4 separate regions of the Homo sapiens genome follow, and regions 2, 3 and 4 are each linked to region 1. Evidence: fine-mapped expression QTL. A gene starts in region 1. Each other region holds a variant in brackets. All regions are shown on one strand. Distances are from middle to middle.

The links.
Region 2: its variant is fine-mapped to the expression of DOCK5 in whole blood (TOPMed, PIP above 0.99).
Region 3: its variant is fine-mapped to the expression of DOCK5 in whole blood (TOPMed, PIP above 0.99).
Region 4: its variant is fine-mapped to the expression of DOCK5 in whole blood (TOPMed, PIP above 0.99).

The regions. Positions count from the first base shown.
Region 1 is chr8:25,181,157-25,188,861 of GRCh38, forward strand. It overlaps DOCK5 (dedicator of cytokinesis 5), which reads left to right and starts at 3,533. Exons shown (of 52, transcript NM_024940.8): 1 at 3,533-3,795. The coding sequence starts at 3,753. It overlaps LOC124901912 (a long non-coding RNA gene), which reads right to left and starts at 3,221. Exons shown (of 2, transcript XR_007060861.1): 1 at 1-3,221. RefSeq lists silencers at 3,351-3,430, 3,441-3,610, 3,781-3,830.
Region 2 is chr8:25,519,224-25,526,928 of GRCh38, forward strand. No RefSeq gene overlaps it. Among named protein-coding and RNA genes, the nearest start is that of CDCA2, 64 kb to the left of the region's middle. The variant A/T (reference allele first, on the strand shown) is at 3,313.
Region 3 is chr8:25,385,787-25,393,491 of GRCh38, forward strand. It overlaps DOCK5 (dedicator of cytokinesis 5), which reads left to right. Exons shown (of 52, transcript NM_024940.8): 41 at 3,305-3,446; 42 at 4,420-4,501; 43 at 6,110-6,194; 44 at 7,010-7,096. Among named protein-coding and RNA genes, the nearest start is that of GNRH1, 35 kb to the right of the region's middle. The variant C/A (reference allele first, on the strand shown) is at 3,267.
Region 4 is chr8:25,376,890-25,384,594 of GRCh38, forward strand. DOCK5 (dedicator of cytokinesis 5) reads left to right here. Exons shown (of 52, transcript NM_024940.8): 38 at 416-535; 39 at 3,416-3,505; 40 at 5,785-5,889. Among named protein-coding and RNA genes, the nearest start is that of MIR6876, 35 kb to the left of the region's middle. The variant G/A (reference allele first, on the strand shown) is at 4,396.

The DNA.
Region 1 (7,705 bases):
CAGGGTCTTGCTATGTTGTCCAAGCTGAAATGCAGTGCCAATTCACAGGTGCCATCCCATTATTGATCAGAAGGGGAGCTCAAGAGAGGGTGCCACCTGGAGCCTGAGGCAGTTCAAATGTGAAGTCCCGGCTACGGGATCTTTGTCAATAATGCAGTCAGTGACAGAGAAAAGACAAGGATGCATCCAGTTGCTTTCTACACAGGGATGCTCTCTGGGCTGCTGGCTGGTTGGAAAAGGGAGGTCTTGGGGTAGATTTCCCCCTGGATATGTGGGCCTGAATTTCTTCAGCTAAGGAGGAGTACCGAAGTTTTGGGATATAGGACTTCCAAATTAGGGCTTTCCAAATAATTGACCCGCTCCATTTCTGACCTGGACCAGTTCACCCCTCCTTAGGCAACCTGGTGGTCGCCTGCTCCCAGGATGTCACTATATTGATGCGGAACTTAGTGCAGACACCTGATCAGCATAGCTCACTGCAGCCTGGAACTCCTGGGCTCAAGCAATCCTCTTGCCTCAGCCTCCCTAGCAGCTGGGACTACAGGCATGTGCGACCTAGCTGGCTTTAGAGTCATTCTTGACCCAGCTTGTATCTCACATGCAGGGACAAGAACCAAGGTGTGTGGGGCCTGAAGGGTGTACGATACGGGTAGGGCTCTTTAAAAAAAAAAAGAAAAATACAAGCATATCTCTTTCTGGGGGAAAACTTTCCAAAAAAGATTGAAGCCTCACAGTAGTAGATCCCCCTGCCGTTCATGTGGCCCTCCTCTTGGTTCTTTTTCATGCTGTGATGCAATCATAGCTCACTGCTAGCCTCGACCTCCTGGGCTCAAGCAATCCTCCCACCTCAGTCTCCTGAGTAGATAGGGCCACAGGCACAGCCACCATGCCCAGGATATATATATAGTAGAGGAGGGTCTCACTATGTTGTCCAGGCTGATTTTGAACTCCTGACCTTAAGCAATCCTCCCACCTCAGCCTCCCAAAATGCTGGGATTACAGGTGTGAGCCACCACATCTGGCCAGGCTCTATTTTCACGTATGTCAAGAACCCAACATCTTTTTCACCTCCATCCTTATCCTCCTGGACCCAACTACCTTCATGTCTTGCCTGAATGACTGAAATAGCCCCCAACATCCATCCATGTGGGCCTCCCTTGCCCCTTTACAATGGATTCATACCACAGCAGGCAAGTTCAATATGTTCCAGGTTGGCTCAAAGCCCTCCAAACCTCGCTTGTAGTAGTAATATATAAAGTCCATATGCCTGCCAGGGTTCTGCTCTATCTGGCATTCCTCTGCCTCTTAGACCAAGTTTCCTCTCACCTGTTACTCAGCTCTCATTACCTAGGATCTCTGGGTGACCTGGGAACCTGCCAAACACGCTTGGTGTCCTTTGCCTTTGCTGTTCCTCTTTTCCAGAATACTTTCTCCCGGAATCTTCACTTCCTTCAGGTCTACACCTCAACCTCAGCTTAGCAGAGCTGCATTCCCAGACCACTCCATAAAAACAGCAGCACCCTACACGCCCTATCCTCCCTGCTTTGGATTTTTCTCTAATGTTTACTCTCGTTTGGTGTACATTTCTTTACTGTCTTACTCTCCCCGTCTAGACTAGAAGCTCTGTGAAGGGACACATTCTACTGTATTCACCGCTGCACCCTCATTCTTAGAGTGATGCCTGGCACTTAACGTGTAGGCATTTAATATGTGTGTGAAGAAGGAAGAAGAAATTACCTAACCTGGGAAATTAGAATCATGATATACTAATGGAGGAAGATAAATTATTTTAGGGAAGATGGTGGAATTCTTTCTGGATGTCAAGTCTAAAGTGACAGAGGAATTTCTTAAATTATTGTTAAACATTGTGAATAAATACCTATTGGTTGATGGAGAAAAAAAAAGCCAGCTCTAGTAGTTACCCACCGTGAATAGGACTTAAAAAAAATTTCAGACCTCGTTTGGTAAAAAACCACCAAAGTTAAAATGCACTAATTCTCCAATGAAACTTTACTATCTTGTTACCTTGTTTGCCTATCTATCTTTACTGTCTTTTTTTTTTTTTTTTTTTTTTAGACGGAGTTTTGCCCTGTTGCCCAGGCTGGAGTGCAGTGGCGCGATCTCGGCTCACTTATAGCCTCTGCCTCCCGGGTTCCAGCGATTCTCCTGCCTCAGCCTCCTGGGTAGCTGGGATTACATGAGCACACCAGCACGTCTGGCTAACTTTTGTATTTTAGTAGAGAAGGGGTTTCACCATGTTGGCCAGGCTGGTCTGGAACTCGTGACCTCAGGTGATCCACCCGCCTCGGCCTCCCAAAGTGCTGAGATTACAGGCATGAGCCACCACGCCTGGCCAACTACCTGTCTTTACTATCTTTACTACATGTTTGTCTTCCTTTCTTTTATATTCCTAAAACGCATGAAAACCTTCACAGGCTGCAAGGAGGATATAATTTCTCTCTAGAGGAATCTTCTTCGAAGGTGAACGTAATTAAGCTGGTCATTTACTCTACTTGCAATGTTACTTCTCGGTACAAGGTAGGGAGAAACCCCTGGATCTTCATTCTCCAAGTCTCTCCAGGAAGAAATGAATTCCAAGAGGGGAGCTCCAGAGAGGGCGCCACCTGGAGCCCAAGGCGGTTCAAATGCGCAGCCCCTTTGGGATCTTCGTCAAGAAAAGGCAGTCGTTGACGGAGAAAAGACGGGGATGCGCCTTGGCCCTTTCTCCACGGGAATGCTCTCTGGGCTGCTGGCTGGTTGGGAAAGGGAGGTCTGGGCATGAGGGTCTAAGTTTCTTCAGCTTAAGGTTGGGGGGTCCCCGGAGTTTGGGGATACAGGACTTCCAAATTAGGGCTTTCTAAACAATTTCCCTGCAGAGGATCCCCTAGCAAACGGTCTGATACTTCTGAGGAGCCCACCTCCCTTGCACCAGCTCTCCGGTGATAAAAGTTCTGCTTTCCAGGCTCTAAGCGGTGGCCCCGGGAGATTCAGTCTGCCCTGAGTCCGGCTTCTCCCGCTCGCGGCGCGGGTTCAAGCTCCAGGGGGTGAAGGCAGAAGTCAACTGCTCATTCATTCAACAAATATTTATTGCGCGCCCGCTTAGTGCCAGGCACCGGAGGTGCCCCGAGCAAGAAGCCGCTCTCGCTGATCCGTTTCCGCTCCCCAAGTGTCCGGCGCGCGCCGTGGGAGCGCAGCCCGCATCCCTCGCCCACCGGCCGCCCGGCCTGGGCGTGCCCGGCTCCTCCAGCGCAGCCCTCTGTCGGGAGCCGGACCCCCGGGACCCAGCCTCCGGGGTATCAGCCGGGTGGGGAGGGCGGGAGAAAGGCAAAGTGCCGCCAGCGTCAAAGTCCCGCCGGCCCAGGAAGCCGCTCCAGGGAAGCGCGCGAGGCGGAGCCGCAGTCGGCCCCCGCCCGGCAGAGCGCAGAGAGCGGCGCGGGCGGGAGAGGCCGGGCGCCCGCGGCTCGGAGGCGGCCCCGGCGGGCGGAGGGTGCGGCCGGCGGGAGGGACTGGGGCGGCGCCAGGAGGGGCGCGCACTGCTGCGCTGCAGCCCGGCCCAGCAGGTGACCGCGGGCGGCGCGGGCACGGGCACGGGCGCGGGCGGCGCGGCGAGGAGGCGGCCCGCGGAGTCCAGCGAAGTTTGGCGGAACATGGCGGAAGCGTCTGGGGCACGCAGGAGCGCGGGGCGGCGGCGGCCGGAGCCCGAGGAGCTGTAGCAGCCTTAGTCGCCGCCGCCGCGGGGCGAGGTCGCCGCCATGGCCCGCTGGATCCCGACCAAGAGGCAGAAGTACGGGGTTGGTGAGTGCGCGCCCCACCTTGTCCCGGCCCGACCCACGCGGCCAAGTTCGCGGACAGCGGCCCTGCCAGGTTTGCGCAGAGCCCGGCGGAGGACCCTGGCCGGGGGCTCGGCCCGGCTGCGCAGCTCTGGGAGCCGGGGACGGTAGGAGTCCTCTCCAGGGAGCGCCGATGGGGAAGTCGCCCAGGGTTTGGGGACTCCGAGTGCTTCCAAGTGCAGCTGAGCTTCGGGACCGTAATCCCGCTCTTGCATCCCAATCTCCGGCACTTCACACCAGGGAAATGTCAACGCGAGGGGGGCGCGCCTGCTGCTCTTTTGGGGCCGCAGCTCTGTGGCTCGCCCCGGTGCGCCCAGCGTGGGTTTCACCTGGGAGTAGGTGACCAGCCCGGGTCGGCACATGGACTGGTGCTCATTGTCCCAGTGCTTTCTGCCCCCCGCTTTCGTAGGTTCTTCTCAGACGCCCCTTAAGTGAGGAGTTGAGGGTGGAAAGCCGCCCTGCCCCCTTTCCTCCAGAGACTGGGATCTTGATGACAGTTGTGAGCTGGATGGAAACTAGAGTCGTGGCGTGGAAGTGATGGAAGGGACAGGAAGTTGTGGCACGGGAAGGGGGTGGCTGGCCCCTGGGGCTGTTTGTGCGCACTCATCCCCTAACGGAGCCTGTCTGGAGAGGGTGTAAGGCTGCCTTCCGGATCCTGAGTTTCATCCTGGAGACGAGAAGAGGACATTTTATTAAGGAAACTGTGCCAGACCCCGTGCTGGGCACTTGGCATTCAGAACAGCGGTGCTGGAGAGCCCCGGGTTGTGCGCAGGGGTTGCTGGTGGTGGTGCTTTGGCTCCGAAACAATAGATGTGCGGGGATTTTGACCCAGGTGGAAAGTCAGGCTCCTTTGGCTTTTTATCAAGGATTGAAGTTATTGAGGGCCTGTGGGAAGACTTCTGCCCTGAACGGGGTGATTACAATGGCAGTTAGACCTGGGGTGATTCCCTACAATAAACACGGCTGAGTGTGTTGCGAATTTTATCACTTCCTCTCAGATCCATTCATTTGGCCTGTTTGTAATTTAGTCTTTGACTTTACTCCCTTACTGAGGTCCTGTTTTTCCTCACCTCACTGGTTAATGAAGTGCAGTCTCAATTAAGAGCTACTCAACGTGTCTAGGGGCTTTTCAACTCTGTAGCCAGGAGTCAGGGTTTTTTGTTGTTGTTTGTTTTGTTTTTTAACAGTCTCATATTTACTATATTATTCTTAGGTTGTGATCCTTTATATATTTATTATTTTTTGTTTTCCCTCAATTCAAAAGACATTTTCTTTTTTGCTCTTAAGTTGCTTTTAGAATCTTAGTCTCTCCCTTAGCTGCATCTCAGAAATGGGTAGAGATGTTGCTTCTGCCTCAGGGCTCTTTTTTTTTTTTTTTTTGGTTTGTTTGTTTTTGAGACGGACTGACGAGGGAGTCTCACTCTGTCGCCCAGGCCGGAGTGCAGTGGCGCAATCTCGGCTCACTGCAAGCTCCACCTCTAGGTTCCAGCAATTCTCCTGTCTCAGCCCCCCTCCCCGAGTAGCTGGGATTACGGGCTTGCATCACTACACCTGACTAATTTTTGTATTTTTAGTAGAAACCAGGTTTCGCCATCTGGGCCAGGCTGGTCTCAAACTCCTGACCTCAGGTGATCCGCCTGCCTCGGCCTCCCAAAGTGTTGGGATTACAGTCATGAGCCACCTCACCTGGCCCCTAGATGAAAGCATATTTACAATGCCCAATCACTACAGAAATGTTATCAACTCTAATTTTATCAGGATTAAAAGCTCTTTTCAAAACTATTCAGTTGAGGGTAATTAATGCAAACATGTTTCAAAAATGTGGTTTTTATTGCCATAGTCCTAGGAGCAAGTATAATTGTTTTTAATATTTTGTTTTTATGTTCTGGAGTCAGTTTACTGTGTCACTTATCAGTCAAGAAAAATATTTGGGCCAGGTGCGATGGCTCACGTCTGTAATCCCAACAATTTGGGTGGCAGAGGCAGGAGGATTGCTTGAGCCCAGGAGTTCAAAACTAGCATAGCAACATGGCAAACGGGTCTTTACAATAAATACGAAAAAAATTTAGCCGGGCATGGTCGCCTGTGCCTGTGGTTCTAGCTACTGAGGAGGCTGAGGTGGGAGGATAGCTTGAGCCTGGGAGGTTGAGGGTGCACCGAGCCCCCATCACGACACTGCACTCCAGCCTGGGTGATACTGTGAGACCCGATCTCAAAAAAAAAACTATATATACATATATATACGTATATATATATATACACACACACACACACGTATACACACACATATATGTATATATGTATATACATATATATGTATATATGCGTATATGTGTGTGTGTGTATATATATATGTATATGGAAATATGGGTGGAAATTGTGTGTGTGTGTGTGTGTGTGTGTGTGTGTGTAAAATATTTGGATTGCATTTCCAGGGCCTAGGTGTTAGGGAAACTGCTCCAGGATATAATTCTGAACACTTATTTCACCAGACATAGATTCTGGTTTGTCTGGGTTTGACAAAAGGACCCACAGTTGGGATAAATTAACTGAAGAGAGAAATCTCCATTGCTTATTGCTAAAACTCATTGTTTTTGTCACCTCCTTGCTTATGTTTATGTCACCTCCCTGCTTGGAAGTCTCTCGTGGTCAACAGGATAAAGTCTGAGCCTCCGTTCCAAGGTTCCTATAATCTGGTTCAGCCTATCTTCAGCATTATCTCTCGAGGCTTCTTTCACTAGCTCTCCAATGCAGACCAACTGCCCTTCCCACTGTTGTGCAACATACCCTGCAGAGTCCCTCCTTTGGGACTTTGCTCCCATTGTGCCTGTCCCTGCCAGGAGTGCCCTCCCAACTCTGCCTCAGACAGCTCACCTTTCCTTGAGGGCTCAAATCCATTCCTACTCCCTTCTTCAAATTTGCTATTTGTCAGACTGTCCCAAACCTCCTTGCTTCTTCCTCGCAGTTCCTGGACTGTGCCATCCTTGGGTTCAGTGAATCAGACCATTGTGGTTTTGTATTCCTAGCACTCAACAGGTGTACCAGGTATTAGTGCATTCAGTTTGCTTGTCCTTGATGTTGGGGTGCCGTTCTAAAGTACACTAACCTAGCTTGTCTGGTAATTGAATGCAGTTTTTTCCTCTTCTTTTTCTTCCCATTAGGCATAACATCTCATTCACCCCAATATGAGTTGAATTTTGTTTGGTTAGATGGAGGAAGGGAGAGCCTCCACTCTGTCTTTATCTCTGCAAGTAAGAGAATGAGATATTCTGCTGAGAAAACAAGGAAGCATGGAGCAGACAGACTTTCTTAAATATAGTTGGGAAAATTGGCTTTCTGGACTTCTCTAAGTGTGTACTGGTCAGATTTGGTTTCTGGATGAAGGAACCGTAGGATAGTCATGTTGAAGCATTTGGATGACTCAGAGCTAGCTATGACTTTGCCTGTTGTGCTCTAAGAGGAGTGTGCCTCTGCAGAGCTAGTCTGTGTGAGGATAGAGCTTTGGACTCAGTATGAATTGTGCCTGCTGAAGCTGGCAGTCGCTACTGTCATATTTTATCTTGGTGCCACTCTTGGCTGTTCCTGACATATCCTAGATGTTTCTACAGGGACTGAAATGCAGCCTGTCTGGGCTTTCTTAGTTCTTAAACAGCAGTGTTGGCTCAGGCTCTAGCATTAAGTGGATCTCAATGGTTTCTGTGTGTTATCAAGTGAAGTGACTGATCTATTTGATTCTTTAAACTTATGGTGCTCTAGTACCCCAGTGTTAAGTGCTCAGTGGCTAAGTGTTCTTCCCTGGAGACGTGGAAAATGTGCTTTTTTCTCATCTTTTTTCTTTCTTTGTTTCTCTTTTCTCTCTCTTTTTTCTGTTTGAG
Region 2 (7,705 bases), 340 kb after region 1:
ATAACACAGATATTCTGTATTTGTTTTCATCAGACCAGCATCCTATGCCTTGCTCACCTATTCCCTTGATCACAGGGTACCTATTCCCTTGATCACAGGGTAACCAAAAGATGAAAAATATTCCATTGTATTGTTCATCCGCAGTGTCGTCACTGCAGCAGGTGTTCTTCCACATGCCCTCATTTTATGTGACTTCATTATCACACCCACATTACTGATAAGGAGCTGAGACTTGTTTTTTTAAGAGACAGGGTCTCACTCTGTTCCCCAGGCTGGAGTGCAGTGGCAGGATCATAGCTCACTGTAGCCTTAAACTCCTGGACTCAAATGTTCCTCCTACCTCAGCCTCTCAGGTAACTAGGACTACAGGCATGTGCCACCATACCCAGCTAGCTTTTTTAAATTTTTGGTAGAGATGGGGGTCTTGCTATGTTGCCCAGGCTGATCTCAAACTGCTGCCCTCTAACAATTCTCCTGCCTCAGCCTTCCAAAATGGGACTAAAGGCATTAGTCACTATACCCAGCTGGAAGCTGAGACTTTTAAGAGGTCATGTGACCTGCCCAAAGTCTCAGAGCTGGTCAGTGGCTGAGCTGGAATTAGGAGTCTCTCTTCCCCTCAAGTTGATTCTTCTTTGATGAAAATGCTGTACCTGGAGAGGCAATGATTTGGAGGCTGTGAAAGAGGAGAATCGAGTCTCATCCAGAAAGATAAGAGTTCTGTGCAAGACCTGCCAATGTCCTCAGAAATGGAGAGCCGCCCTCACTACGTGATTGGAGATACAATGACCATGTCTTGGCTCCACTGGAGGGATGTGTTTCCCCTTCCAGTCTTACTCTCCTGTCCGTAAGCCATAGCCTCATCCTGCATTTCTTCCAAAGGAATCCATCCCATTAGTACACACATGTCAACTACTGCAGAGCCCACTGCATTCCTTACTCCTAATTTAGATTTGTCTTGATCACATTGTGAGGAGGTTATATGGATCTAGCAAGGTCATTTTTTGTGTCATCCTCTATTGAATACACTACTTTTGGCTAAAAATTTAAATCAGCCTATCCATAGCCTTGTTCTAGCTTGTCCCTAGCCATGGAAATCAAATACCATCCATGTATCTTTTCACCATGTTACCAAAACATCAGGGGTTGAGTCTAGGTCCTACTACTCACTGCACTAAAAGCCAGTCACTGAGATGATTGTTGCCAAGGAAGAAGGCTTTAATCGGGTGCTACAGAGAAGGAGATGGGAGCTCAGTCTCAAATCCATCTCCCTGACCAGCTAAAACTAAGGGTTTATATAGCTGGGAAGAAATGAAACAATATGTAAGAAAACAGGAACTAGGGAAAGGCAAGGAAAAAATCAGGATGAATGAGGGGTCCAGCATCTCATTGTGTAGATGTGGTGATCTGATGAGTTTCACTTCTTTGATCCTTTTTTGAGAAACCTGAAGGTCACTTCCTAAGGAAGGAACTCGGATAAAACAAACACATGTTTTAAGCTTTGAGACCAGAAGGGTTGGCCGGGCTCAGTGGCTCACACCTGTAATGCCAGCACTTTGGGAAGCTGAGGTGGGTGGATCTCCTGACATCAGGAGTTCGAGACCAGCCTGGCCAACATGGTGAAACCCCGTCTCTACTAAAAGTACAAAAATTAGCTGGGCGTGGTGGCACACACCTGTAATCCCAGGTGCTCAGGAAGCTGAGGCAGGAGAATCTCGTGAACTCAGGAGGAGGAGGTTGCAGTGAGCTGAGATTGTGCCACTGCTGCAGCCTGGGTGACAGAGTGAGATTCCATCTCAAAAAATAAGACCAGAAGGGTCAATTTCTATGTTTAGTCTATGGGACTATTAAATCAGTTTCACACCCAAAGTGTGTCTACCTATGGCTTGGCAGGAGAGGTCAGGTGTGTGTGTCAGCAAATGACAGGAAGATTGCCAGGAAGTTCTCTCTAGAGTCTGGTAAAAGAACAGCTTCTGTCAGGAAGTCTTACCCTGTTCTTAGGACAGTTGTAGGGATAATCTGAGTTTAACAGCCCTCCCTCCATCCTGGGCACCTTAATTCCAGGAAGAGACAGGTCTGTACTCTGGGCAGCTGTTGGCATTTCTGTTGGGAGGTCTGGAGGGGAAACTGGCACAGGTCCTGTGTTGGGGGCTTAGGACAGCAAGTGCCAAAAGAAATCTTTATTAAGTGATAACTAATTACCAGATGGTGAGTAGAATGTAATTGTAGTTGGTACGCTGAAGTTGTGAGACTTGTTAAGAGATTTCTCCAGCTCCTTGCTCTAGTTCTACAAAGAAATTTTGGGGAGAGAATGGGAATCCCCTCCTGTAGGAGTTAATTTCCAAACCTGGGGAAAGCTACCCTCCTTTCCCCAATAGCTTTTCCAAAGAATCAATGATTTAAAAACTGTATCTTGGCTGAGCATGGTGGTTCACACCTGTAATCCCAACACTTTGGGAGGCCAAGTCAGGAGTATCACTTGAGCCTAGGAGCTCAAGACCAGCTTGGACAACATAGTGAGACCCTATCTCTATGAAAAAAATACAAAAATTAGCTGGGCATGGTGGCACGCACCAGTAGCTATTCTGGAGGCTGAGGTGGGAAGATGGCTTGAGCCTGGCAGTTCAAGGCTGCAGTGAGCTGACTGCACCACTACACTCCAACCTGGGCAACAGAGAAGACCTTGCCAATTAATCAGTCAATATAAAAATAAATCAATGGCCGGGCACGGTGGCTCACGCCTGTAATCCCAGCACTTTGGGAGGCTGAGGCAGGCGGATCACAAGGTCAAGTGATCGAGACCATCCTGGCTTACACAGTGAAACCCCATCTCTACCAAAAATACAAAAAAATTAGCTGGGCGTAGTGGCGGGCACCTGTAGTCCCAGCTACTTGGAAGGCTGAGGCAGCAGAATGGCGTGAGTCCGGGAGGCGGAACTTGCAGTGAGCCGAGATGCGCCACTGCACTCCAGCCTGGGTGACAGAGCGAGACTCCGTCTCTAAATAAATAAATAAATGAATAGGCCGGGCACGGTGGCTCATGCCTGTAACCCCAGCACTTTGGAGGCCGAGGCGGGCGGATCACGAGGTCAGGAGATTGAGACCATCGTGTCTAACACGGTGAAACCCCATCTCTACTAAAAATACAAAAAATTAGCTGGGTGTGGTGGTGGGTGCCTGTAGTCCCAGCTACTCGGGAGGCTGACGCAGGAGAATGGCGTGAACCCAGGGGGTGGAGCTTGCAGTGAGCTGAGATCACGCCACTGCACTCCAGCCTGGGTGACAGAGCAAGACTCCATCTCAAAATAAATAAAT[A/T]AATTAATTAATTAATTAATTAAATGTAAACATATAAAAGAAATGAATAAAAAACTTTTATTTCAGTTATACCCCATTTCACTTGCAAATGTTCCTGTGACAGTAAAACATCAAATTATAAAATTTCAAGATATCTTGTTTTGTACTTGTAGTTGGGATTTGCAGTACTTGACCATTATATAACATTACAAAATGATCTGATGGCTGGCAAGATGGCCGAATAGGAACAGCTCCAGTCTGCAGCTCCGAGCGAGATCAATGCAGAAGGTGGGTGATTTCTGCATTTCCAGCTGAGGTTCATCTCACTGGGACTGGTTAGACAGTGGGTGCAGCCCATGGAGGATGAGCCGAAGCAGGGTATGGCGTTGCCTCACCCAGGAAGTGCAAGGGGTTGTGGACCTCCTTCCCCTAGCCAAAGGAAGCAGTGAGGGACTGTGCCATGAGGAACGGTGCACTCAGGCCCAGATACTATGCTTTTCCCATGGTCTTTGCAACCCACAGACCAGGAGATTCCCTCGGGTGCCTATACCACCAGGGCCCTGTGTTTCAAGCACAAAACTGGGTAGCCATTTGGGCAGACACCGAGCTAGCTGCAGGAGTTTTTTTTTTTTTTTTTTTTTGTATCCCAGTAGTGCCTGGAATGCCAGCGAGATAGAACCATTCACTCCCCTGGAAAGAGCGCTGAAGCCAGGCAGCCAAGTGGTCTTGCTCAGCGGACCCCACCCCTACAGAGCCCAGCAAGCTAAGATCCACTGGCTTGAAATTCTCACTGCCAGCACAGCAGTCCGAAGTCAACCCGGGATGCTGTAGCTTGGTGGGGGGATGGACGTCCACCATTACTGAGGATTGAATAGGTGGTTTTCCCCTCACAGTTTAAACAAAGCTGCCTCAAAGTTCAAACTGGGTGGAGCCCACCCCAGTGCTGCAAAGCCACTGTAGCCAGACTGCCTCTGTAGATTCCTCCTCTCTGGGCAGGGCATCTCTGAGAGAAAGGCAGCAGCCCCATCAGGGGCTTATAAATAAAACTCCCATCTCCCTGGGACAGAGCACTTGGGGGAACAGGTGGCTGTGGGTGCAGCTTCAGCAGACTTAAATGTTCCTGCCTGCCAGCTCTGAAGAGAGCAGCAGATCTCCCAGCATGGCACTCAAGCTCTGCTAAGGGACAGACTGCCTTCTCAAGTGGGTCCCTGACCCCCATTCATCCTGACTGGGAGACACCTCCCAGCAGGCGTCGACAGGCACTTCATAGAGGAGCACTCCAGGTGGCATCTGGCAGGTGGCCCTCTGGGACCAAGTTTCCAGAGGAAGGAACAGGCAGCAATCTTTGCTGTTCTGCAACTTCTGCTGGTGATACCCAGGCAAAGAGGGTCTGGAGTGGATATCAAGCAAACTCCAGCAGACCTGCAGCAGAGGGGCCTGACTGTTAGAAGGAAAACCAACAAACAGAAAGGAATAGCATCAACATCAACAAAAAAGAACATCCACTCAAAAACCCCGTCTGAAGGTCAGCAACATAAAAGACCAAAAGTAGATAAATCCACGACAATGAGGAAAAACCAGCGCAAAAAGGCTGAAAATTCCAAAAACCAGAATGCCTCTCTCCTCCAAAGAATTACAGCTCCTCTACAACAAGGGAACAAAATTGGACGGAGAATGAGTTTGACAAATTGAGAGAAGTAGGCTTCAGAAGGTGGCTAATAACAAACTCCTCCAAACTAAAGAAGCATGTTCTAACCCAATGCAAGGAAGCTAAGGACCTTGAAAAAGGTTAGAGGAATTGCTAACTAGAATAGCTAGTTTAGAGAGGAACATAAATGACCTGATGGAGATGAAAAACACAGCACGAGAACTTCGCAAAGCATACACAAGTATCAATAGCCAAATCGATCAAGTGGAAGAAAGGATATCAGAGATTAAAGATCAACTTAATGAAATAAAGCATGAAGACAAGATTAGAGAAAAAAGAATGAAAGGGAATGAGAAAAGCCTCCAAGAAATATGGGACTATGTGAAAAGACCAAACCTATGTTTGATTGTACCTGAAAGTGACGGGGAGAATGGAACCAAGTTGGAAAACACTCTGCAGGATGTTATACAGGAAAACTTCCCCAGCCTAGCAAGACAGGCCAACATTCAAATTCAGGAAACACAGAGAACACCACAAAGATACTCCTCGAGAAGAGCAATCCCAAGACACATAAACGTCAGATTCACCAAGGTCAAAATGAAGGAAAAAATGTTAAGGGCAGCCAGAGAGAAAGGTCGGGTTACCCACAAAGGGAAGCCCATCAGACTAAAAGCGGATCTCCCTGCAGAAACCCTGCAAGCCAGAAGAGATTGGGGGCCAATATTCAACATTCATAAAGAAAAGAATTTTCAACCCAGAATTTCATATCCAGCCAAACTAAGCTTCATAAGTGAAGCAGAAATAAAATCCTTTACAGACAAGCAAATGCTGAGAGATTTTGTCACCACCAGGCCTGCCTTACAAGAGCTCCTGAAGGAAGCACTAAATATGGAAAAGAAAAACTGGTACCAACCACTGCAAAAACATACCAAATTGTACAGTCCATCAATACTATGAAGAAACCGCATTAACTAATGAGCAAAATAACCAAGTAGCATGATAATGACCAGATCAAATTCACACATAACAATATTAACCTTAAATGTAAACAGGCTAAATGCCCCAATTAAAAGACACAGACCGGGAAATTGGATAAAGAGTCAAGACCCATCAGTGTGCTGTATTCAGGAGACCCATCTCATGTGAAAAGACACACATAGGCTCAAAATAAAGGGATGGAGGAATATTTACCAAGGAAATGGAAAGCAAAAAATAAAAAAAAAGCAGGGGTTGCAATCCTAGTCTCTGATAAAAGAGACTTTAAACCAACAAAGATAAAAAAAGACAAAGAAGGGCATTACATAGTGGTAAAGGGATCAATGCAACAGGAAGAGCTAACTATCCTAAATATATATGCACCCAATATAGGAGCACCCAGATTCATAAGCAAATTCTTAAGAGACCTACAAAGAAACTTAGACTCCCACACAATAATAGCGGGAGACTTTAACACCCCACTGTCAATATTAGACAGATCAATGAGACAGAAAATTAACAAGGCTATTCAGGACTTGAACTCAGCTCTGGACCAAGCAGACCTAATAGACATCTACAGAACTCTCCACCCCCCAAAAACAGAATATACATTCTTCTCATCATCACCTCACACTTATTCTAAAATTGACCACATAATTTGAAGTAAAACACTCCTCAGCAAATGCAAAAGAATGGAAATTGTAACAAACAGTCTCTCAGACCACAGTGCAATCAAATTAGAACTCAGGATTAAGAAACTTACTCAAAACTGTACAACTACATGGAAACCGAACAACCTGCTCCTGAATGACTACTGGGTAAATAATGAAATTAAGGCAGAAGTAGCACTAAATTCCCACAGGAGAAGGCAGGAAAGATCTAAAATCGACACCCTAACATCACAATTGAAAGAACTAGAGAAGGAGGCCAGGTGCAGTGGCTCACACCTGTAATCCCAGCACTTTGGGAGGCTGAGGCAGGCGGATCATGAGGTCAGGAGACTGAGACCATCCTGGCTAACATGGTGAAACCCCATCTCAACTAAAAATACAAAAAATTAGCTGAGTGTGGTGGCGGGTGCCTGTAGTCCCAGCTACTCAGGAGGCTGAGGCAGGAGAATAGTGAGAACCTGGGAGGCGGAGCTTGCAGTGAACCGAGACCACACCACTGCACTCCAGCCTGGGCAAAAGAGCAAGACACTATCTCAAAAAAAAAAAAAAAAAAAAAAAAAAAAAAAGAACTAGAGAAGCAAGAGCAAACAAATTCAAAAGCTAGCAGAAGACAAGAAATAACTTAGAGCAGAACTGAAGGAGATAGAGACCAAAAAACACCTTCAAAAAAATCTATGAATCCAGGAGCTGGTTTTTTGAAAAGATTAACAAAATAGACCGCTAGCCAGACTAATGAGGAAGAAAAGAGAGAAGAATCAAATAGACACAATAAAAAATGATAAAGGGAGTATTACCACTGATCCCACAGAAATACAAACTACCATCAGAGAATACTATAAACACCTCTACTCAAATAAACTAGAAAATCTAGAAGAAATGGATAAATTCCTGTACATATACAACCTTCCAAGACCAAACCAGGAAGAAGTCAAATCACTGAATAGACCAATAACAAGTTCTGAAATTGAAGCAGTAATTAATAGCCTGCCAACCAAAAAAAAAAAAGCCCAGAACTAGACAAATTCCCAGCCGAATTCTACCAGAGGTACAAAGAGGAGCTGGTACCATTCCTTCTGAAACTGTTCCAAACAATAGAAAAAGAGAGACTCCTTCCCAACTC
Region 3 (7,705 bases), 200 kb after region 1:
TGGAGAAAAGGACTTAGGGAAGGGGACTAGAGAGGCAGGTGTTGGGGATGGAGTTACAATTTTAAATACAGTAAACAAGAAAGACTTCAGAAAGAAAATGGCATTTTTGCAAAAACCAGAAAAAAAGTTAAAGAATAAGCTATGCAGCTATCAAGAGGTTGAGCAAAGGTCCCAGACCTTGAGAATAGCAGGTCCAAAAGCTATGAGGCTGGAGTAGTTGTGTACAAGAGGGTGTATAGGAGAATGGGGCAGGTGGCTGTTGGTACCAGATAGCAGAGGGCCTCCCAGGGCTTTCTAAAGTGTTTGCAAAGTTTGGTTTTGCACGTACTCAAGGGGAGGTACATTTGGAACATCCAAAAGGCACAAGTCAACCATTAGCTGTATAGATCTGGAACTCAAGTGAAGTTACAGACAGGAGAGAAAAGTTGGTGAGTTACTTGTATGGAGTTAAAATAACCGTGGTTGGGGATGAGGTGGACCAGGCAGAGGAAAGAATAAAGAGTGGAAGGTCTGAGGCCAAGCATGGTGACTCATGCCTGTAATCCCAGCACTGGTAGGCCAAGGCAGGAGTCTTGCTTGAGCCCAGGAGTTTGAGACCAGCAGTTTGAGGCCAGCCTGGGCATCATAGCATGACCCCGTCTCTATAAAAAAATTTTTTAAAAATTAGCCAGGCATGGTAGCATGTGCTATGGTCCTAGCTACTCAGTAGGCTGAGGCAGGAGGATTGCTTGAGTATTGGAATTAGAAGTGACAGTGAGCTGTGATCAAGCCACTGCACTCCAGCCTGGATGACAGAGTGAGACCCTGTCTCAAAAAATAAAATAAAAAATAGAAAGAGTGTAGGGTCTAAATGCATCAGGGTCTAGTGTTAGCTCAGCTTCAATCCAGGTCAACATAAAAGAACAACCCCTGCCATAGCCGTTACATATGCCTGCATGTCCCATGAAATCAGAAATGTGACCACAGAGACAGCAGTGATTCTGTGAAATCAAGAACACCAGACTTTCAAGTCGAAAGCATTCTCGTCTAAATCACCTGCTGAGCGAGTGTGCAATTTTGGTGAAATCACGTAATCACTGAGTCTTGGTTTTCTGATCCGTAATTTAGAAAAATAATGCCTACATCGCAGGAAAGTTTTGAGAATTAAGTTAATAGCATATAGGAGTGCTTTATAAACTGTAAAGTAGTTTAGAGATGTTAACATACCTCAAAGGCATACTGTAGAATATAAAATCCTCAGGAGTGATATAACCTCACTGCCACTCTCTTCTATGGGATATTTCCCTGAATTCAGAATATTTAAAATTACATCATCCTCTCCTTCCAACCCAATGAGATCTCATTATCTCTTTTGTTTCTGTCAGGGGTACCACTGTTCTTCCTACTCCAAGACCAGTGACTTTTTTTTTTTTTTTTAAGAGGTCTCGCTCTGTCATCCAGGCTGAAATGCAGTGGTGTAATCACAGCTCCCTGCAGCCTTGACCTCCCAGGCTCAGGCAATCCTGCCTCAGCCTCCTGAGGAGGTGGGATTACAGGTGTGCACCATCACGCCCAGTTAATGTTTTTATTTTTTCTTAGATATGGGGTCTCACTATCTTGCCCAGGCTCAAGACCAGTGATCTTTGAATCAGCGTCGACTCCCCTGTCTGCCCTGCCCTTCTCCCGACACCAAAGAAGCAAACACTGAATGCTGTTACTTCTGTCTCTCCTTCTGTTACTTTTCCTTCTTCTGCTCAGTCCAGCCTGTGAGCTTTCAGTTGGGCATAGATGCCACTGTTGGCTTACATTGTCTACACTTCTTCTTTCATCATGCATCTCCTGCCTTCCAGAACCTCCAGTGAACATTCCAAGTCTTTGAAACCTCTGCCTGCCATGCGAGACCATTCATTTTCTGGCTCATTCTTCCAGTCCAAGCTCATTTCTTCTCCCAGAATTCTGTGCTTTCCGCCCCTGGGCCTGACTCTTTCCACATACCCACCTGGTCCTTCGCACCCCTTCTCTTTACGCTTCCTTATCCCATTCATCTGTCTATGCCCATCTAAGGCCCATGTCTTGCTTGAAGCCTTCTCTTTCCAGTCGAGCTAATTCTTCCTGACCTGCTTCTGTGATTCCTTTTACAGTTATCGTCTGCATCATACAACTAGCGTTGTATTACACTCTGATCCTTTACCCACCATTGTTTCATCTGAATGATGGAATTTCAACAGGCTTGAGTCCCATAGACTTTTCCTAACTTGGAAAAGTTTTATCATATATTCCAAAAGATCCAGTAGTTTTTACTCCCTTCATTCAGTGTTTGCCTGGAAAGTGTAATTGCCCTCACGGTACTTACACTATCATGTTTACTAATATATTTACTTGCTTGTTTTTTATTCTCTCCTCTAGAAGGTAAGTTCTGTGAGAGCAAGATCACCATTGTATTCCTGTTGTCCAGCTGATCTTCTCTTTGTGCAATACATATTTTTATATGAATGGACAAGTGATTTTGAAAGACATTTTACAAGACAACCTGGGCCCAAGTGTTGCTTAAAAAGGAATCATGTGTGGGCTACCAATGGAAACTGCTCATTTCAAACATGGCTATGTTTGCACTTGCCCAGGCAACCACACCTGTGAGACAAATTACTCCCATGCCTGGGGCCTAGGAAATCTCTTTGGGGAAAAAAAAATGATTAAAGAGATTATATTTACAGTCTAGAGTGGAGAAAATAGTATTTAATGCAGTAATTTTCTATTAGACTTTCAGGATTGGCTGGGGACTGTGGTACATTGCTTCTGTTCTCTGTCACTCTGTTTCTGTGCCAGAAGACACATTGCTTCTCCTCATTCTCTTATGCAGTGCTGTTTAAGTGGTGGTCCACAAATTGTTGCTGGATGGTGATGAGATCGATTAGGAGTTTATACCTCAATGTAAATTAATGCACTTCCTTCCTTCCTTAAGAATGTCTTGCCATGAAAATATCAGCATGCCTGTGGATGTCATTGATTTAAATGAGGGCACAAGTTCCGTATTTCCTTGCAGATGGGTCCAGACTGTTTGCAGACTGGCCATGGTCCTTGGGCCACACTGGAAGAAGAACTGGGCTAAGTATTTTTTATGCCTGTGATTTAACTTCTCCAATAAACCGCAGCTCTTGTAGGATATGATGGTCGCTGTCAGGCAAGGACTAGATTTTCAGTGAGAACTTGATGGTGGGGATTGAACGTTGGCTGGGGAGTGCAGTGGCTACCTCAGTACCCGGAACTCCAGTTGCCTCTCCACTCTT[C/A]CTATGTAATGACTTCCCTTTCTGTGTCTCACCTGCAGAATAAAATCTTCATCTATCGGGGAAAGGAGTATGAGAGGCGAGAGGACTTCAGCCTGAGGTTGTTAACCCAGTTCCCCAATGCGGAGAAGATGACCAGTACCACGCCTCCTGGGGAAGACATCAAGTCGTCCCCCAAGCAGTGTATCCTTTCCGGGGGGAGTATGGCCCCGAGGCTCTTATGGCTGTGCACAGCCCCAGCTAAGCCAGAGAACATAGGAGCTACAGTCCCTTCTCTGCAGACACACCATCTTCTCAAGCATTCTGACACAGGTTCCCATTCCATGTAAAATCTTTGGGACCCTAATAGCATTAGCTGGTGGTGATGACATAACAAAAGAGGAGAGATAATAGACAAATGATGGATATGAAATATACTTCGTAGCCAGATGGGGAGCTTAAGTGGAATATATACTTTCTATTGTGAATTCTGGATTCTGTTGTAGACTTTGAGACAGTATCTCTGTCCTGGTGGGTTGGGGAGCTAAGACTTTCTAAGACTTGATCATTAAATCAGAGCAGGAGCGCTTACACTTGAGCTGCTTTTGAAGCCTAACTTTACCATTTACCAGTTGTGTGATGTTGGATTTTAACCTCTCTTATCCTCAGATTCTCCATCTGTGAAAAGAGAATAAGAATATCCCTCATGTAGAGTTGTTGTGTATAGTAGAGATAACACATTCAAAATACCTAGCACAGTGCCCAACTATGGCACTGGATAAACAGACGGGATCCAAAGATAAAAGTAATTCTTGTTGCCTGGGCTCTGATTCTGGTGATTTCAGAGGGATGCTTGTCCCAAGAAATTGTTTAAATCCATTTCTAAGTACCTATTTCCTGATATTGCATTGATGTCTATTTCCCTATGGCAAGGATTGTTTGCCAGATGTCTGACCGAAAAAAAAAAAAGGGCCCTAGGATTAATTATAATCACTGAATAAGGCATTCCAGTGATACACAAAGGAACTCCCATTTTCAGTGTGGTCCTGGCATTGGGGTCAAAGGGAGTGATTGGTGCTGGTGGCATTTCCGGCTGTGAAGCAGGAGGAACAGGGGTGTTTGGTGTCTGACACCTTCACGACCCCAGCCCCTCTCCTTTCCTTAACGAGCTCTTCAGACATGCAGTGCTTCACTGTAAAGCCAGTGATGAGCTTGCCGCCCAGCTACAAGGATAAACCTGTTCCAGAGCAGATCTTAAAGTAAGTGGTTTTTCATTTAAAAAAAAAAAAAATCTGTGTCTAGGCACAGTGGCTCACATCTATAATCTCAACATTTTCCGAAGCTGAGGGAGGAGTATTGCTCGAAGCCAGGAATTTGAGACCAGCCTGGGCAACAAAGTGGGATGCTGTCTCTACAAAAAAGAGAAAAGTTTGTCTCTCCCTCACACCTGTTTGGAGTACATCAAAACCAAAGCCTTACATTTATTACAGTTTGCAAGACCTACTGTCTGTTCTACTTTGAGTGTAAGATAAAAGCTTGGTAATACAAAGGGATGTGGGGGTTTTGGTTTTTTTAGGCAGAGGAAAATCAGAAATTTCACACCTAGCTTACAGATCCCTGAGCTTTTATTTTCACCCAAAAGCATCGCAGAGGAGTGGCTGGTCCCCAGTGATGGAGGGGCTCATTCCTTGTCTTGAAAAGCTGAATGCTAACAGTATTGAAAGAACTGTTATAAAACTAGACTAATGAGATCACAAATGTATGTGTAAGTGCATACACCTTTTTTTTTGTTTTTTTTTGAGACGGAATCTTGCTCCGTCACCCAGGCTGGAGTACAGTGCGTGATCTTGGCTCACTGCAACTTCTGCCTCCCAAGTTCAAGCAATTCTCCTGCCTCAGCCTCCCAAGTAGCTGGGATTACAGGTACACGCCGCCACACCTGGCTAATTTTTTGTATTTTAATAGAGACGGGGTTTCACCGTGTTGCCCAGGCTGGTCTCAAACTCCTGAGCTCAGGCAATCCGCCCACTAAGAGACAGGGTCTCTCTGTCAACTAGGCTGGCATGCAGTGGCACGATCATAGCCCACTGCAACTTCAAACTCCTGGGCTCAAGAGACCCTCCCTCCCACCTCAGCCTCCTAAGTAGCTGGGACATACACCACCACACCTGTGTGTGTGTGTGTGTGTGTGTGTGTGTGTGTGTGTGTGTGTGTGTGTGTGTAAATGGGATCTTGCTGTGCTGCCCAGGTTGGCTGGTCTTGAGTTCAAGCGATCCTCCCACCTCTGCCTCCCGAAGTGGTAGGATTACAGGTGTGAGCCACCACACCTGGCCACATATACCTTTTAAAATTGTGTGCTGTGACTTTGAGGCTGAGGCGGGTGGATCACTTGAGGTCAGGAGTTCAAGACCAGCCTGGCCAACATGGTGAAACCCCATCTGTACTAAAAATACAAAAAAATTAGCCAGTCGTGATGGTGCGTGCTTGTAATCTCGGCTACTCAGGTGGCTGAGGTAGGAGAATCACTTGAACTCAGAAAGTGCAGCCTGCAGTGAGCCAAGATCGTGTCACTGCACTCCAGCCTGGGTGACAGAGTTAGACTCTGACTCAAAGTAGATAAATAAATAAAAATAAATAAATAAAATTGTGTGCTGTGAAATAAATTCCTAAATAATATAAAAGTAAGGTGTGAAATAAAATCAAATTGTACACTTTCTCAGGCCTTCATGTGGAGGCACTATTGATTATGAGATAGCTTAGTGGGTAAAACTCAGACCAGGCAGATGTGTTATAGGTTTTGTTGAAGTCAAGTCAAGCAGTGGTTGTTCTAAGAGAGAAAAATACAGCATTGCTTTGTCCTTCTCCAGCTACTACAGAGCCAATGAAGTGCAGCAGTTCAGATACTCCCGGCCGTTCCGGAAAGGAGAAAAGGATCCAGACAATGAATTTGCTGTGAGTTCACCCCTTTTGTCCTTTAAGAGGTAAAATTAACGGGCTGAGCACGGTGGCTCACGCCTGTAATCCCAGCATTCTGGGAGGCCGATGCGGGCGGATCACGAAGTCAAGAGATCGAGACCATCCTGGCTAATACGGTGAAACCCCATCGGTACTAAAAATACAAAAAAATTAGCCGGGCGTGGTGGCACGCACCTGTAGTCCCAGCTACTCGGGAGGCTGAGGCACGAGAATTGCTTAAACCCAGGAGGCGGAGGTTGCAGTGAGCTGAGGTCGCACCACTGCACTCCAGCATGGGCGACAGAGCGAGACTTCGTCTCAAAAAAAAAAAAAAAAAAGGTAAAATTGACATCCCAAGTGGAGATCTTCCACCTACCTAACCAGCTTCCACAGGAGAAACGATGGCACCCCTGGGAACAGAGACTTCACCTGCTAATTACCTAGACAGCAAGTACTAATTACCTAGACAGCCAGCTGTCATCTCCATGGAAAATGCTAGACTAGGAGTCCAGAATCTGGTCTCTTCCTGGGCCTGCTGCTTGTAATGACCTTGGGCTAGTCATACCTCTCTAGACCTCACATTTCCCTCTGTAGGGTGAGAAGTCCCAAGTAGACGATCCCTTTCAGCTTTAAACATCCAGAATCCTTGAATTTTATGAGAAAATTTGGCTCAGTCTCTACGAGGCATTTGAGAATAGAATCTCACTTAAGTGAACCAGGGAGTCTTGCTGTTTTCCCTGGGAATTGACCAACATTTCATGTTTTCCTCCTGGGAATTGACCAACATTTCATGTTTTCCTTCTTGCCACCAGACGATGTGGATTGAACGGACCACGTATACGACTGCATATACCTTTCCTGGGATTCTCAAGTGGTTTGAAGTCAAACAGATTTCAACAGTGAGTCATTTGAAATTGGCATTTAGAAAAAAACTTTCTGTTTCCAAATATAATAACAGCCTTTGTTGAATTCCCTCTGCAGTTCACACCAGCTTGGCCAGCCTCCTCTGGCCAACTTTGTTTTTCAAAAGAGAAATAAAAGGCATGCTTATATAATAGAGCTCCTTTGTAAAACTGATGTGACAACACCAGCCCTAAAGGTCAATCACAGTGAATGACTCTTTTATGTCCAGAGGAGTGGTGTCTGCTCAGCGATCCTGCCAGCACCCAGAAACATTTTTGGAATGCTGCTTTGGAGTTTCTTGTCAATTACATCTTCCCTCCCAAAGCCTGTTCTCTTCTTTTATTCTCTGCTAATCATATCCACAGTTACCCTAGACTCCTCCCTCTTCATCTCGCCCAAAAGCTGCTTATTTTACCTGTTTAGTATTGATTAAATCTGTTTTATTTCCCACCTCCTCATTGGCCTCCCTGCCATGCATGGCCTTCTCAGGTCCAGTTACCTCACTGCCTCAGTGGGAATTCCATTAAGGAAATCTCACCATTTCGTCCATTCTCGTGCTTAAAGTCCTTCCATGGCTCCAAGTACCTGGAGTATAAAGCCTGTCC
Region 4 (7,705 bases), 200 kb after region 1:
TAATTCTCTTATTGTGTGTCGCAGTTTCTTAGTCAACTGCCTTGCATTGTGAGGAATACAACCATAATGTTTGCAAATTGTGGTAGTTTTACCTCTTCCTATTCATTTTTATACTCCTAATTTGTTCCTTTTATCTGACTGTGTTACTGATGCCCCAGTACAACGACAGTCATGTCAGTTAGCGACCTTGCTTTGTCGCTGGCATTTTGGGGGGATGCTGTGAGTGCTCCTTCATTTGGCATGATACTCTTGTTTTGGAGCTGGCATGTGTATATGTGTGTATATGTAACTTTTGTGTTTAATACATAATCTAAAATACAAAATCAATGAGTCAAATATATATACAATATTTTCTTGATGTTGGGGGGCTGAATATTTGTTGTATTAACCGTGTGTCGCTTTTCTTCCTTTTCAGTGGTCTGACAAGCCCTGTGTGCCTCATTTGCTTCAGAAGGACAGTTACTATGTTTATACCCAGCAAGAGCTTAAAGAGAAGCTGTATCAAGAAATCATATCATATTTCGACAAAGGCAAAGTGAGTATTGGATTGTTTTTGTACTAGGGGAAAGAGGAAAATGACCGCAGTATCGCAATACAATTCTGATGCTCACCACTTGGAGTTAGCACTGACTACCCAGGTTCAGGGCACTGTCTCCAACGAGACTGCCCCCGCTTCAGATGCCATCTTCAAATTTGGGGGTCCCCAGTCCATTCACAGTTCTGGGCAACTGGGTATACATCTGGGGGGCTTCCACTGCCCCCTCAGGTTTAATAGTCTGCTAGAACAACCAATAGTACACAGTGAAGTGCTATATTTAACCATTCCAGTTTCATCAGGAAGAATGTAAACTGGGGCCAGCCACATGAAGGGACCCATAGGGAACAGTCTGGGAGAATCTCAAGCGTGGGGCTTCTGTGTCTTCCCCCTGTGAACTCGGGGCACCTTCCCAGCAAATCAGTGTGTTCCTCAATCAGGAAGCTCACCCAAGCCATGGGTGTACAGAGTTTTTATTGGGGTTTCTTTTTTTTTTTTTTGGTAAATATGGGGTCTCACCAGTTGCCCAGGCTGGTCTAGAACCTAGAACTCCTGGGCTCCAGTGATCCTCCTGTATTGGCCTCCCAAAGTGCCAAGACTACAGGCATGAGCCACTGTGGGGTTTCATTATACAGGCAGGATTGAATGAATCGTTAACTACACAATGAACTTGATCTTTAGCCTTCCTTTTGTCCCTGAAGATTGGGCTGATATCGCATGGCTCACAGCCCTAACCTTCTAGTCACATGATTAGTATTTCTGGCATGGCAGCCCCCATCCTGAGACTAGGAGACCACCATGAGTCACCTCATTAGCATAGATTTGGGTATGATCCTGGGGTGGGGGCACCAGGAATAACAAAGACACTCTTATTATTTGAGAAATTCTAAGAAAATTCACCGGAACTCAGGACCAAGACCAGATACATGATTTAATATACAACAATAACTCACAGCTACTGTTTATTCTTCCCTTGTGTATTCTTGAATTCTGAGATTTCAGAGGGGGACAGATTTTGCAAACAATGATTTTAAAAGATTTAATTTTGAAGTGTTTCCCAATGGCTTGTGGGCTCTGCACACATTTCCTCAGAAGCCAGAAACAATGGAACATAGCACCTTGTGAACAGGAATGAAGCAGGAGGTGACCCGATGCTGCAAGTTGAATAGTATCCGTCTAAGAGACAGCTCATGAAATACCAAAGGGGTTAGAAGGCTCAATCTGGGCTGCTAGCCTCAGACACTGAGGACGTGCTTTAGCCTGTAACTTACATGGTTATACATGCTCGGAGGCATTTCCTAAAACTCATCCACTAAGTAGGGAAATCAGTGCCCTGCATTGAAATACAGTTTGCCAAATTCCACACTATCGGGGAAACCCACCCCCAATATTTCAACATAGGTTCTTTCTATTTTCCATAAGTGTTGGCCGGCTGATAAATAAAGAGAAAGAGTACAAAGAGAGGAATTTTACAGCTGGGCTGCCGGGGGCGACATCACATATCGGTAGGACCGTGATGCCCACCTGAGCTGCAAAACCAGCAACTTTTTGTTAAGGATTTCAAAAGGGGAGGGGGTGTACCAACAGGGAGCAGGTCACATACTTCAAGGGGCAAAAAGCAGAGCAAAGATCACATGCTTCTGAGGAAACAGGACAAAGGGCAAAAGGCAGAAACTCCTGAAGAGGGTCTATGTTCAGCGGTGCACGTATAGTCTTGATAAACATCTTAACAGAAAACAAGGTTTGAGAGCAGAGAAGCGGTCTGACCAAAAATTTACCAGAGTGGAATTTCCCAACCCTAGTAAACCTGAGGGTACTGCAGGAGACTGTTTATTCTTCCTTATCTCAACTGCATAGGACAGACATTCCCAGAGTGGCCATTTATAGACCTCCCCCCAAGGAATGCATTCCTTTCCCAGGGTCTTAATATTAATATTCCTTGCTAGGAAAAGAATTTAGTGATATCTCTCCTACTTGTACGTCCATTTATAGGCTCTCTGCAAGAAGAAAAATGTGGCTGTTTTTGCCCGACCCCGCAGGCAGTCAGACCTTATGGTTGTCTTCCCTTGTTCCCAAAAAATCGCTGTTATTCTGTTCTTTTTCAAGGTGCACTGATTTCATATTGTTCAAACGCACATGTTTTACAATCAATTTGTACAGTTAACACAATTATCATAGTGGTCCTGAGGTGACGTACATCCTCAGCTTACAAAGATAACAGGATTAAGAGATTAAAGTAAGACAGGCGTAAGAAATTATAAAAGTATTATTTGGGAACTGATAAATGTCCATGAAATCTTCACAATTTATGTTCCTCTGCCGCAGCTCCAGCCGGTCCCTCCATTCGGGGTCCCTGACTTCCTGCAACACCACACAACAGTACTGTTAGCCTTTTTCCATCTCCACAAACAACATCACTACACCTACACACACACACACACACACACACCCATACACACACCTGTACACACACATTTCAGAACCAAAGTCCCACAGAAACTTCCCTTCCCCCTCCAACCAGACTTGCATGCTTTCCGAACCTGGGCTGGCAGAGCTTCCTCTCTACTTTGAAGTGCTGTAGGTGCTTGACCTGTTAAACACAGTATTGCTTTTTTGGGCGACACATGGTACTTATTCTTAATGTCCGTGCAAACAGAACTACAGAAGACGCCCCTGGCAAAGCTGCCAATATACACTGTCTTTATGATGTCAGGAAATGAAGGTTTCACTGATCTAAGGGATAAAGCGAGTGAGGAATATCTACCGAAACTCAATCCCCCAGACCACTTGCTCATTCCCAGTGACTCGCCAGTGGCTTTTGCCACTGAATCAATGACTGCCTTGTTCTCCACTTTTAACCTTACTTTCCTTTTTCTGAAGATGTGGGAGAAGGCCATCAAGCTGAGCAAAGAGTTGGCTGAGACTTACGAAAGCAAAGTATTTGACTACGAGGGCCTTGGCAACCTCCTGGTGAGTCTGGGTCAAAATATGTTAGGCCTCTGACAGGGTTGCTAAAATTAGCACTCATGAAAATGTTTCCGTAAGTTGAAAGTCAGGATGAATGGTGTTTTTTTACAATGGAAAAGTCAACTTTGCTTGAAATGAGAATGAAAAAAGATGTAGTCCAAAGGCTCTGATCAATATTTCTGCCAAATATCCTTCAGAGAAGGTTCAGGACATCTCTGGAAGTGGAGTGGGGTTGTCTCGACAGTGTGGTGGAATATTGAGTTTCAGATAGTAGTGACTCGCTTTCCACATCCCTCAGGATCTCTGTCTGCAGCTCTCTCATTCTTCCTGAAGCCATTTTTCTTTCTGTGGGCCCTCCATATTCCCAGCCATCAGTAAAGCAAAACAAAAATGAGTGCCCAGTGTTAGGCAGCCACCATTCTGAAAGCTCAGTGGAGGCAGCCACCATTCCGAATGCCCAGTGGAGGCAGCCACCATTCCGAATGCCCAGTGGAGGCAGCACCATTCCGAATGCCCAGTGGAGGCAGCACCATTCCAAATGCCCAGTGGAGGAGGCAGCCATTCTGAATGCCCAGTGGAAGGCAGCCACCATTCTAAATGCCCCAGCGGTAGGCAGACACCATTCTGAATGCCCAGTGGAAGGCAGCCACCATTCCAAATGCCCAGTGGTAGACAGCCACTCTTCTGAATGCCCAATAGAAGGCAGCCACCATTCTGAATGCCTGATGGTAGGCAGCCACCATTCTGAATGCCCAGTGGTAGGCAACCATAATATTAAATTTAATAATTTCTAGTAGAGGAGTTAGAAAAGATCAGGTCACCCATAGTCATGAAATAATCATTTATTTGAGGAGCTGGGTGTCAAGATCACTTTGTAAAAAGTTTACCAGTGT[G/A]CTATTACCAGCCCCTGGCTTCACATGCAAAAAACTGACTTATTAATTTCATCAACTGGGCTGGGCACGGTGGCTCATACCTGTAATCTCAGAACTTTGGGAGGCCAAGGCAGATGGATCACTTGAGCCTAGGACTTCCAGACGAGTCTGAGCAACATAGTAAGACACCATCTCTACAAAAAATATAAAAAATTAGCTGGGTGTGGTGGCACCTTCCTCTAGTCCCAGCTACTTTTGGGAGGCTGAAGTGGGAGGATCACCTGAGCCTGGGAGGTCAAGGCTGCAGTGAACTGTAATCATGCTACTGCACTCCAGCCTGGGCAACAGAATGAGACCCTGTCTCAAAAAAAAAAAAAAATTTCATCAACTGAACTGAGCTGAAATATTAGTAATGTAACATGTTACATACCGGTCTAAGAAAATAGTATTTTGACGAGACCATCACCTAGATAGAAGAGTAATGGCATGCTAACCATTGTAGGGGAGGGGGCTCAGGTCATTGCTCAAAGCTGTCCACGTCTGGCTGGCTATTTTGCTTTCTTTAAGGCTGACCTTGTGAGCCAAAGCTGGAAAGCCCCTCATCTTGTGAAGAATTAAAGATAAAGATGGTAGCAGATACTGAAAAACCGAACATCACCACCACCTTCTGGGCACTTATAATTTACCAGACACTTTCATCCAGACCACCTGCATGAACTACACAGTCCTTCTTTTTAAAAATGTTCTTTATTTTATTATTATTTTTTCAAAACAGGGTCTCACTCTGTCACCCAGGCTGGAGTGCAGTGGTGCAGTCATAGCCCACTGCAACCTTGAACTCCTGGGCTCAAGACATCTTCCTGCCTCAGCTGCTGGCTAATTTTTTAATTTTTTGTAGAGATGGAGTCTCACTATGTTGCCCAGGCTGGTCTCAAACTCCTAGCCTCAAGCAATCCTCCCACCTCTGCCTCCCAATGTGCAAGGATTATAGGCGTGAGCCACTGCGCCTGGCCTTGGAAGGTTCTTTATCTTCTCCCATGGGTGTCTGGTTAAGTGCAGCCGCCTTCTGTGAATCTCAGAATGCACTTTTTAACCTTTTGTAGTCCCTGAGCCCACTTTGAGAAACTGCTGAAAGTTGTGCACTGCCCCGTTACGCAGAAGAATTCCAACGTGCACACACTTCAGCATACACCCTCAGGGAGTCACAGCCTTCCAACGTCCATTCATGGAGCCCAGGTCCAAAACCTGTGATCCGAGAATAGGATAACCCTTTTCTGCCCATAGGGTGTTTTCCAAAGACCTTTCATTGCTCTGGGTTACGTGGGAAACAACAAAACAAAGTCTGACTTTTTTTTTCCCCCAACTGTGTACTTATAACCTCCCCTTGGAATGTCTTGTTTTGTTTTCCAGAAAAAAAGGGCCTCATTTTATGAGAACATCATTAAGGCAATGAGGCCTCAGCCTGAATACTTTGCTGTTGGATACTATGGACAGGGCTTTCCTTCTTTCCTACGGGTAAGAAACCTGATGGTGGTCTCCCAGGCCATTAGGAGGAGGGAAGAGACTCATTTCTTTTCCAGATGGGCAACAGGGTGTTAGCAGCTGCCGACCCGTGTTCTCGCTGTGGGAGGTAGGGGAGGGAAACCACTTCCTGAGCAGCCGGCCTCTTCACCCCACACCCCCGGACACCCGTGGTGTTCTGCAGGTCTTTTGTGAAATGACTTTTCCCAGGTGCAGTGAAAAAGGGAAAAACAGAACCATCCCCCGCACTGGTCAGCTGCTACGGGTCACGCCAGGGAAAAGTGTGGACTGATGTATTTCGTTGTTTACCATGTTTCTAGCCAGAGCTAATTTGAAAATAGGTATCCCAAGAACCAGACTGCAGGAGTATCCCAAAATAAAACATTTTATTATAATAATAATGACAAGGATGGTATTTTTCTTCCATCTCAAAATTGTGTATAATGCGATATTCAATTTATAGTTTAATAAATAAAAATTCTTATCTCTTACGAAAAGTTTCTTTTAGAGCTGAGCTTTGCTTAAACATTTATTATCCATCTGCTTTCTCCTAATTTGAAAACAAGCGATAAAGCAAGCAATTTACATTCCTAACAGTGCCTAATGAGACAGTTTATTCATTCAGTCAGTAAATATTTATTGAACATCTACTGTGTGCCAGGCATAGGGAAGGCATTAGAAAGATCTTGCTGATTACAGTCAAACATAGTCCCTACTCTCATGGATTTTACAACCTAAACTCATGAGGGGAGATTTTAATCACACATGAATGTAAAATTTAATCTGCATGTCGGACGCAGTGGCTCATGCCTGTAATCCCAGCGCTTTGGGAGGCTGAGGCAGGCAGATCACTTGACGTCAGGGGTTCGAGACCAGTGTGGCCAACATGCTGAAACGCTGTCCCTACTAAAAGTACAAAAATTAGCTGGGCGTGGTGGTGCATGCCTGTAATCTCAGCTACTCAGGAGGCTGAGGCAGGGGAATTGCTTGAACCCAGGAGGTGGAGGTTGCATTGAGCCGAGATCACACCACTGCACTCCATCCTAGGTGACAGAGCGAGACTCCATCTCAAAAATAAATAAATAAATAAACTATAACCAAGAAAGATACCCTGTGCTATAAGAATCTGTAACCAGGAAGTATTTACCCAAGTGAAATAGAAACTTACCCTTTTACAAAAAATGTACAGGAATATTTATAGCAGCTTTAATCATAGTCACCAAAGACAGGATCCAATCCACGTGTCCCTGAACTGGTGATGGGATAAACAAACTTCAGTGTATCCACACAACAGAATACTGCAGCAGCCAAAGGCAGTCAGCTCCTGATACACACAACTGCGGGCATGATTCCCACCCACATGCAGCTTGCTAGGTAAAAGAAGTTACACTTAAAAGGCTGCGTACTCTGTGGTTTTATTTATACGAAATTCTTGCCTAGGCAACGCTTCCTATCAGGACAGAAAGTAGATCAGTGGTTGCTGGCCAGGGGGAGGTTGGCTGCAGAAGGGCCTGGGGAAATTTTTGGTGGCAGTGAAACTGTTCTGTATCTTGATTGTGGTCCTGGTTATGTTTGTCAAAACTCACAGAATTTTACACTAAAAGGGGTCCATTTTACTGTATGTAGATTATGTCTTAATATTATTATTTTATTTATTTATTTATTTATTTATTTATTTATTTTTTTTTTTTTTGAGACAGTGTCTCGCTCTGTCACCCAGGATGAAGTGCAGTGGTGGAATCTCGGCTCACTGCAACCTCCGTCTTCTGGGTTGAAGCGATTCTCGTGCCTCAGCCTCCCAAGTAGCAGG